Regions from separate parts of the Homo sapiens genome. Here region 2 is linked to region 1. The links come from fine-mapping of genetic effects on gene expression. A gene starts in region 1. The other region holds a variant in brackets. All regions are shown on one strand. Distances are from middle to middle.

What was found.
Region 2: its variant is fine-mapped to the expression of ARPC5 in whole blood (TOPMed, PIP above 0.99).

The regions. Positions count from the first base shown.
Region 1 is chr1:183,633,757-183,638,155 of GRCh38, forward strand. ARPC5 (actin related protein 2/3 complex subunit 5) reads right to left here and starts at 2,027. Exons shown (of 4, transcript NM_005717.4): 1 at 1,761-2,027. The coding sequence starts at 1,903. It also overlaps a transcript of RGL1 not described here. RefSeq lists enhancers at 1,223-1,723, 1,721-2,000 and silencers at 1,311-1,529, 1,481-1,540, 1,621-1,670, 2,151-2,310.
Region 2 is chr1:183,687,681-183,692,079 of GRCh38, forward strand. It overlaps a transcript of RGL1 not described here. Among named protein-coding and RNA genes, the nearest start is that of APOBEC4, 37 kb to the left of the region's middle. The variant T/G (reference allele first, on the strand shown) is at 2,483.

The sequences.
Region 1 (4,399 bases):
CATATTTCACAAAGGTTATTCAAACTGTGTTAGACCATACCTATTAAATTCAGGCTCTCTTTGAAAGCACTAGTGAGTTAGCAAGCATGAGAAACAGAAGGCCAATCAGACTGTCAGAATGTACAAACATTCCCCTAAAAGGAAAACCACAGAGTTCACTTGTTCCTCCAACTCTAGTACCCCACCACTAGGGCTGTCTTTCCTGGCTGTATGTAACGGTAAGAAGAGACAGTATCTTTATATTTTAAGATGAACTGATCAAAAAGCAGATCCACTGATATGGATACAGCAGTACCATTTAAAAGTCACCACAAATTACCTAAAATACACTGGGGTTTCATAAAACACCATCTATCCATCACAAATAATGTTTTTAGGAAGCATGTTCACCATTTATTTTCTAAAGAAAAAGTTCTTACACAAAATCTCTGGTTGACAAGCTGTTATTTTCAAGGCTGCAGGGATTTCTAGAGAAGCATGCCTGATGTAGATTAGCTCATTTTTTATAACTCCAAGCACTTAAGTATTTAAATAATGCAAAAGAGCAACAGCTAATTAATTGTGAAAGTTGTGGCAAAGCACTATCTATATATTGATAAATGTCTAATGCTCTATTTAGGTGCCTTTAAAAAAGGATATTGTTGCCATTAAATATTTTCACTCTCATATTTCCCCACTATAACAGGACATTGTTGAGAGTCTTCCTTATGAATACACCCAAGAATTAGAAATGCATACAAATTCAGTGTCTGAGATTTTCTAAAACTACAGCTTCGGTTTTTTTGCAACATTTACATTTTTCTAAAAAAGATGTAATGCAAATGCGAAGCCAAAGTTATGAATATTCAAATATGCAAAAACAGAAACCGGGAACTGACTGCCATATTTTAACTAAAATGGAAACAATTTTAGGATTACAAAAATGATTCTGCTTTATACGAATGACTCATCTTCTATCTTATTCATTGGGGTTTATTTTAAATATTTCCAAGGATTCTCCACACGCATTCCCCGTTGTTTTTTCTATTGTCCTTTTCTTAGCAGGTAAAAGGCTCCAAGCTTCCTTCTAGGAGTTTTGTATTTTTTGTATTCATTCCCCTCCCCCAGTTAACAAATTCTGTACAATGTATATTTTGCCAAATCCCCTTCTTCTTCTTCTTTTTTTTTTTTTTTTAAAAAGGCCAATGGGCTGAAAGCACAGGGACCCTCAATTTTCGAACAGTCCCATCTCCCCCCGCCCCCCGGTAAGGAATAAACTACCTTAACGCTACCAATAACAAAAACACAACAAAAAACAAAACCACTAAGGAAAGATGCAGGTTCCCCACAATCAGAAATTTCTGGAGCTAATGTGACCCCAGGAAATCAGAGTTCTAGGAAGAAAAACTAAGGCGCTCGGCACCAGCCTTCCCCACCAGCCGGGGCCGCCTTCCCCAGCGCCGCGAGGGCGCGGCCGGCGGGACCAGTTCCCGAGGCAGGCAGGCACTCGGGTGCAACCTGAGGAATCTGGGGGCGTGGAAGGCGCGCGGGGGAGGGCAGGCTTCCAAGAGTGGGACCCTCGCGTCTCCTGCCGACTGGGTAGGAAACGGGGGCTTCCCCCTTGCCCTCTCAGAGCGGGCGATCCCAAAGAGACAGGTTAAGCCGCAGGTTGAGAGGGCAGCTCCGCGCCGGTGCCCCGCGGATCCTGCAGGCTCCCGGGTCCCAGGAGAAGGGCGGGCTGGGCTGGGCTGGGGTGGGGAGGGCGGTGAATGCAAGGATATTGCCGCAGGCAGGAGTCCACCTCGCCCTCGTCGGGCCCGGCCTGGCCGTCGCCCCCATCTTCTTCGTCCACGAACTTGTTCTCGTCATATTCATCCACGTCCACCTTCCGGAAGCGGGCCGACGACACTGTGTTCTTCGACATCCCAATCCCGACCAGCGGCAAAGGCCTCTTCTTGGCGCTGCCTCTACCTCAGCAAGCCCAGCCCAGCAACCCACTACCCGGCGCCTGATTCACTTCCCTCTTCCGCTCTGAGGCGTCGCCGACTGCCGCGGCTCGGACCGTTCTGGGCCTGCGCGCTAGCCCCGTTTCTTCCTCCTCAGGTTCGCGCTCCCTTGGCGCCTCCCACGCTGCCCCTGCTCTTCCACGGAGAGCGCGCGCGAGGGAAGGAGCGCGCAGGACACAGCGCGCAGGCGCGGGCTCTCCGCAGGCAAGGGGCGGGGCTGGGCGAAGGAGGCGGGGGCGAGAGGGAGGGCCAAAAGCTGGACCGCGGGCAGAGGTAAGAAGCGATTGGTCGTCCGATTGCGTCACGTGATTCTCGGTGGGGGGGTTCCCATAGAAACGCTTTTCTGCGGTCCAGTCTAGGGGGTCTCAGATTGGCGGGGATGGGCAGCAGCGGCAGGTGGCCTTGGCTTTTGCTGCAGCCGTCAACGACCTATCATCGGGGTCCTGCGTAAGGTCCGGCTGGCTGGGACTTGGCTGTGGGTGGGATGGACTGGCTGCCGGACCGAGTGCCCTGCAGTTGGTAGGAGTATGAGGCAGAGTGATGCACACCCGGGCGCCCAGCATCGTTCTAATTGCCGGAGACATTGCCTCAGACTGTGCGCTGCTAGAGGCTGCGTTCCTGAGCAGGAAGCCCGTTTCCTGGGATTGGAACTACCCTTCTTGGCCAGCGGGAAGTCCCCAAGGACGGAGTCGAAAGGTCAAATCTTATCTGTCAGTGCTGTGTGACAGCATCGCAACGGGATCTGCAGAACCTGAACTCGGTATCAAATCTATTGGGAGGGAGGGGAACGTGTCCGGGCAGGCGCTGGGGTCGGGTGGCAAAACTGGGGTGAATTTGTAGAATTTGGGAAAGGGTCATTGACATCTTAAAATAGGTGGTCGTTTGGAGCAAGAATGCTCGAAAGGGGTGAGGGTAGGTTAGGCTCTCTAGTGCTGGGGGAAAACAAAATGTGGAAGGATTGGTGGAAACCAGACCTTTAAGATTTATATTATGATTTGAGATTTATATGATTCCATCTAGGCCAGATTTAAAAAAATATTTGACATCCCCATTTCTGGAATGTAGGAGATAAAGGCACTAAGACGAAGGAAATGGTAGTTGTGCTGTGTGTATTACACTGAAGAACAAATATTTGCAGGATAAAATTAATTTGGACATTTGGCTGGACACTGCTCGGTATGGGTCCAGTTTAGTTGGACCTCGAGCAGAAGACTGGCTGTTGCCCTGTTGTGTACCACAATCTTTGGTTTCCAGTGCTGTGTTGAAAAGAGCACTAGGCTTAGAATCAGAAAACTCAGGCTTAAGTGTTGACTCTTCCACTCATAATGTTTGAACGAGACATGTCACTTAAAATTCTGTCTCAGATTCCTCATCACTGAAATGGAGCTAATAATGTGCACTTTACAAGATTGTTCTTAGGATTATATATCACGAAAGTGTTTCCAAGCTCTAAAATTCTACATAAATGTAAAATGCATGTTGCTTGTACCATTGGTTTTGGGACTAGTCTTATAAATTTCTTAATGATATATGGTGTTTTATCTCCTTCCTAGAAGAGATGGAAAGATTCTGAAGGGCAGAAACAGTTTTTCTTTTGTATCTTCCTTCCATATGACAAAAAGCTAAGCATGCAGAAGGGACTCGATACATGCTTGATGAATGAATGAAATGTGAAAGACCGTACAGTTTGAGAATCATACTGAGAATAATAAATCAGAAGAGGGAGAGAGATCTCAAAATTAAATATTTGTTGGATATATACATGTAAATACATATGTCCAGTCTTCTTTAAGTTCAAAAAAATACATATATAATGTGTGTATATTTATCTATGCAGTATATTATATATAAATAGAGAGTGGGAGAGAGACCTCGAGAATGGAATACATCCCTTTTTCTTGGGAAGAAGCAATGTGGTGTTTTTCTGTTCCCAATTAAACCACTCTTCTATAAGTATATCATTTAGGTGATAGAAGTAACATTGTTTAAATTAACATTCAAGTTATGAACACACACTGGTAAAAATTCTCTTAGGAATGCCTTAAGACAGCAAAGGAAAAATTTTTACCTGTTGGCAATATTTATTTTAAAAAGCCATATACCAAAGTATAAAATCATTACTATGGTGAATGGCGTTATATAACTTAGAATAAAGATTTTACAATTTTTTTTCAGTTTCAGTCTTTGCTAACTTTAGTAGATGCTAATCAGTATACTTTAGCTGTTAAAGGTGATTGTACTTTTTCTTCTTTTAAATCAAGATTTTTCTTTGAAGAGAAAATCGAACATTAGAGGCACTATTGACAGCAAATGGAAACAGGGATTCAAGAGCTAATATATCTCTTCTCTTACATTTCTATTCTTTTGTATTGCCTTATTTAGGAAATTTTTTATTTTCTTATTTGAGAACTATG
Region 2 (4,399 bases), 54 kb after region 1:
CAACAATGATGTAAAAGGGAACAAAGAGAAGTGAATGCAAAACATCTTTATTTGCTTTGGACTGCCCTTCTTCCACTAAGGCTAACTTTGAATAAAGAGGAACTCGATACCGGGCCAATGAATAAATTTTTAAAACTGGAAACTTAAAATGAAGGTTTGAGGATCCTGAAATACTATATATTTTAAAAAATCAATGATTCTTTTAAGAAATGGAAAACAAAGTGAGGGAAGAGTGGGTAGAGAGATTGATTGGTCATTCTATATCTAGTGTAATGGAAAAGGTATTTTGTGTCAGCAAGATCTGGGTTTTGATTCTAGTCTTGCCACTAGCTGGCCACATGACCTTGGATGTCTTGCTTCTGAAATCTAGGCTTGTTATTTCTGTTGGTGGTTTAGGATGATCACATGAGATGAATCTTGGGAAATAATTCTTACAATTATAAAGCACAATACAAGTGTAATATATTATCCTGATTATCATTATCTCACCATTCTAGTATGAGGATCCAGGGCTTCATTCTCTTGATGTTTTCAACTTTGTGGTCCCAGAACTCCAATGGCTACAAAGATGCCAAGATCTGAACTCAGAGATTCATGAAACAGCTCTAAATAGTTTTAAATTACTTCCTTGGGAAATTTTTGCTTGCTTATGTGTATCTGAGATTAACAACAGTAAAAACACCTTTTATATAGCACCATCAGTGAGGCTTTATGTCTTTATTATAAATTTTGGAGCATCCTCCAGGCTCTCAAAATGAAATCTCTGGATCTACTGAAGAGAGAGAGAGAGAGAGAGACAGCAAGGACTTTCATGTCTTTAAAAGCAATTACAGGCTCAGGTCTCTGAAAAAGTATTAAGTGCCAAGACTGACGCCTCTGCAACCATTTATTCTTGACATTTTTTCAACTTTTTTTTAAGCCAGACTATTGATGCATTTTAATACCATTAGTATTTGTTAAAATTAGTTCAGCAGTATTATTAATTTGTCTTCTTAAAATAAAAGGCAGGAAAACAGTATTATGCATGTATTTAAATAAGTCCCCTTTCCAGATATTGGAAGGTATGTTTTTAAGTATTCTGGAGAAAAGTCATTTTAAAAAAATTTCCAAGCAGACCATTTTGCTTTAGAAATATTGAAGATGCAATATGTGAATCATATTTGGATTTTAAAGCAGGATATTAAACTTCACAGTAAAAATGATTCCATAGTTGTTAAAGTCCAAAGAGAGGTTTACGAAGCCAGCAGACAGAGAAACTGAAATTCACTTGGAGAGGTAAATGACACAGGAATGGAAACATTGAATAAATAACTTTACAGCAATTTTTCTTGATGTTATTTTATCCCTTAAAGGCAGACAGATCATTAAAATTAAAATTGTATTAAAAATATTCTCTATAAAAATATATAACCCAATAAAATGAATGTTGAGTCAGCCACGTGTATTTCTTTCCAAACCCATAATTTGGATTTGGATTGGATTTCCAAACCCACAATACTAAATTTATTTAGTATTTTGAAATTCATATTTGCTAGGCAGTGCATCTTAGTAAATTAAAAAATATATATTCCCATTACTTAGTTCATGTAAATAATCCTAAAGGTGAACTGAATTGGCCTTACTGAAATGGAGGCTCATGCCAGGGCTGACCAGGGAAGGTGAAGAGAGGATAAGAGACATTTTATCTTCATGCATTTGTGTCTTTGCATTTGCTGTTTCTCTCCTGGATGTGTTTCCCATCCTGGGTCATTTGCTTAAATTCATACCAATTTTTTTTAGCATCTATTTCAAGCACCCTGTTCTCCACTATGACTTCACTAACATTTCTAGATAGATAGTTGCTCCTTTCTATTGCTGCCTTGTATGTAACTCTGTTATTGCATGTAACACATCATCAATAATTTGCTTACATTTCTGTAGCTTTTGTATTTCCAGTACCTACCTTAGTGCTTGACATATAGTAAGAACTTAATAAATGTCTGCTGAGTGAATAAATAAAAAAGTGAGTGATAGCTCCTGATCACTGCATAACATAGATACAACTCATAAAGTTGTGATTCCTGGCCTCATCCTTGTGGGGCAAGTAGGGGTGGTGGGACAGAGGCTACCCAGAAGATGAACAGAGGGATGGGTTGATTATGCAATAAAAAACATTCATTCAGCTTCTGGCACTGTGCCAGGTGCTGTGGGGGAAACTGCAGAGATGTGAGGTACATTGTATCTGCTTTCAGGGGTTTACCAGTTAGGTTTAAGGGCCTAATTTACCTGTATGAATCATCTAGAGGGAAATTGAAGGCTAAGTTGTAAGACTTGACTGTGTGTCTATGAGGAAGTTAGAAAAGTTAGAAACCCACATGAGTTGAAGGAGCTTGGAAAGGCTTCATGAGGAGCCACAAGTTAATTTGGGCTCAGCAGTATTGACTGAAGGAAGGGCTGATGAAGTGGCAAGCCTTGGGCTAGGTGGGAGTTGAATGGGTGGCTG[T/G]GTGGGAATTGGCTTGTGGAGCAGTGTTTACTCTGGGAGACCACAGACACTTTCTACACCTATGGATGGATTTTAGAGATGCTTTGAACCCCTGGAATTATTTGCAAAATGTTGTATGTATGTTTATATGAGCAGTTTTCCAGGGAGAATTCTCAGCTTTGAAAGAAGTAGATGCAGATTTTAAAAGAATGTTACGTTTTGTAGTTGTAATCACGAATAGGTAGCATTATCATTATTTATCTTTTCATGAAGTCTTAAAGAAAGGGAAAAAGGAAGAATTCGATGGGGTAGGGAGGTGAAGGGAGGAGGGAGATTCAGGCTAACAATATAGGTATCAATATTTATTAAATGATCTTTCCCTGAAAGTGTATCACTAACATGCTGTATCTTTAGCTGATTGTCAAAAGAGATCATCTAAGCGATGGAGGCTACACTGCCTGTTTGAGAGAAACTACTGAACTAAAAGTGAATGAAAATGTATCCCATTGTTGCCCAAATGAAAATATACTTAATTCAAAGGCAGAAATAATTTTTAAAAATTGTTAGTGCTAGAAAGATGAGGTACTTATAAAAAAAAAAAAGAATGTATTTCAACCAGATCATGTAAAAGTATGCCCATTCTCCCACTGATTTTTCTTCTACTTGTTAATAGTTTTGCTTTTTATACTTAGCACGTTAGCATATTTGAAGTTTATGACATCAAGTAGTGACTCAAGTTATTTTAATGGAAAGCAAGTCATGTTAAGATCACTTCTTGAACAACTTATGCTTTTGTCATTGACATGATATGCCTAATTGAGGTTTATGTTGTATATATCCTGATTGGGGTTCACTGAGATTTTTGGATTTGTAGATTAAAGTATAAATTAAATTTTGGAACTTTAAAAAATAAAAATAAAAAATAAAAATAAAAATTGTTAGTGCTTTAACCAGCAAACATTATTTTTTAAGGATTATTCTATTTAGGTTTTTGAATGTAGGGATTTGCCTCATAATGAAAAATCTGCATTTCATCATAAAAACTGAATAAAATGAACATGACTTGGTTATTTGCCATAGATGCGGATTCTTTTAATATTGGATGCTCAGTTTGTATAGAAAACATTTGGATTGGAGCCCCTCTTTGGGCCATTGCCAACTAGAGGTTAACATACTAATATATCAGAGATAGGAGTGATGGATTTCTACTTCTGGGTGAGTGTTACGCTATCACATGCCCTGAAGTGATAGCTCTATCATGTTGCAATTGTGAGTTAAGGAGGAAGGAAAGAGATCTATGAAAAAATAAGCTGTTCCTTTGTTTCCTGGCTTGTTCCAAAAAGGATTGCAATAAAAAAGAGTTTCATATTATTGGTTTATGTAATTGATAAGAGCCCAGTAATTGAGGAACAAAAAAGTTGTTAAGTTTATGCAAACGAATAATACAAAAGGGATTTTCCCATAATTCTATCTTTAGGAGAGTAATTAATTGGATAATAGTTAAAGAAGATAGTAATGTTGAGAGAATGAATAGGTATATAAACCTCAATTATATCTTAAACATTAGTAAGCCATATTTTTACATAGAATTCAGTTTAATTGGAGGACCTGAGAAATTTGTTGACACTGGAAACTTGTGCATTTTTGATTTATAAACCTGAAATATGCATAACTAATGTTAATTTAATAATGTTGAATTTTAATAGCCTTAAAGTCAAGCATTAAGAAAAATGCTCAGATCATACAATTTTATGAAAAATAGACTATTCAACTCTTAATGATTCAACATAAAGGGCCACTTCAGTGAATGTTCAAAATGTATTATCACTTCTGTGGTGATCTAATCTTATTTATTGAATCTGGTAACATATATTTATGTATATATGAATATGAGAATCTTAATATATATTTTAATATATATATTATTACATTATTCTG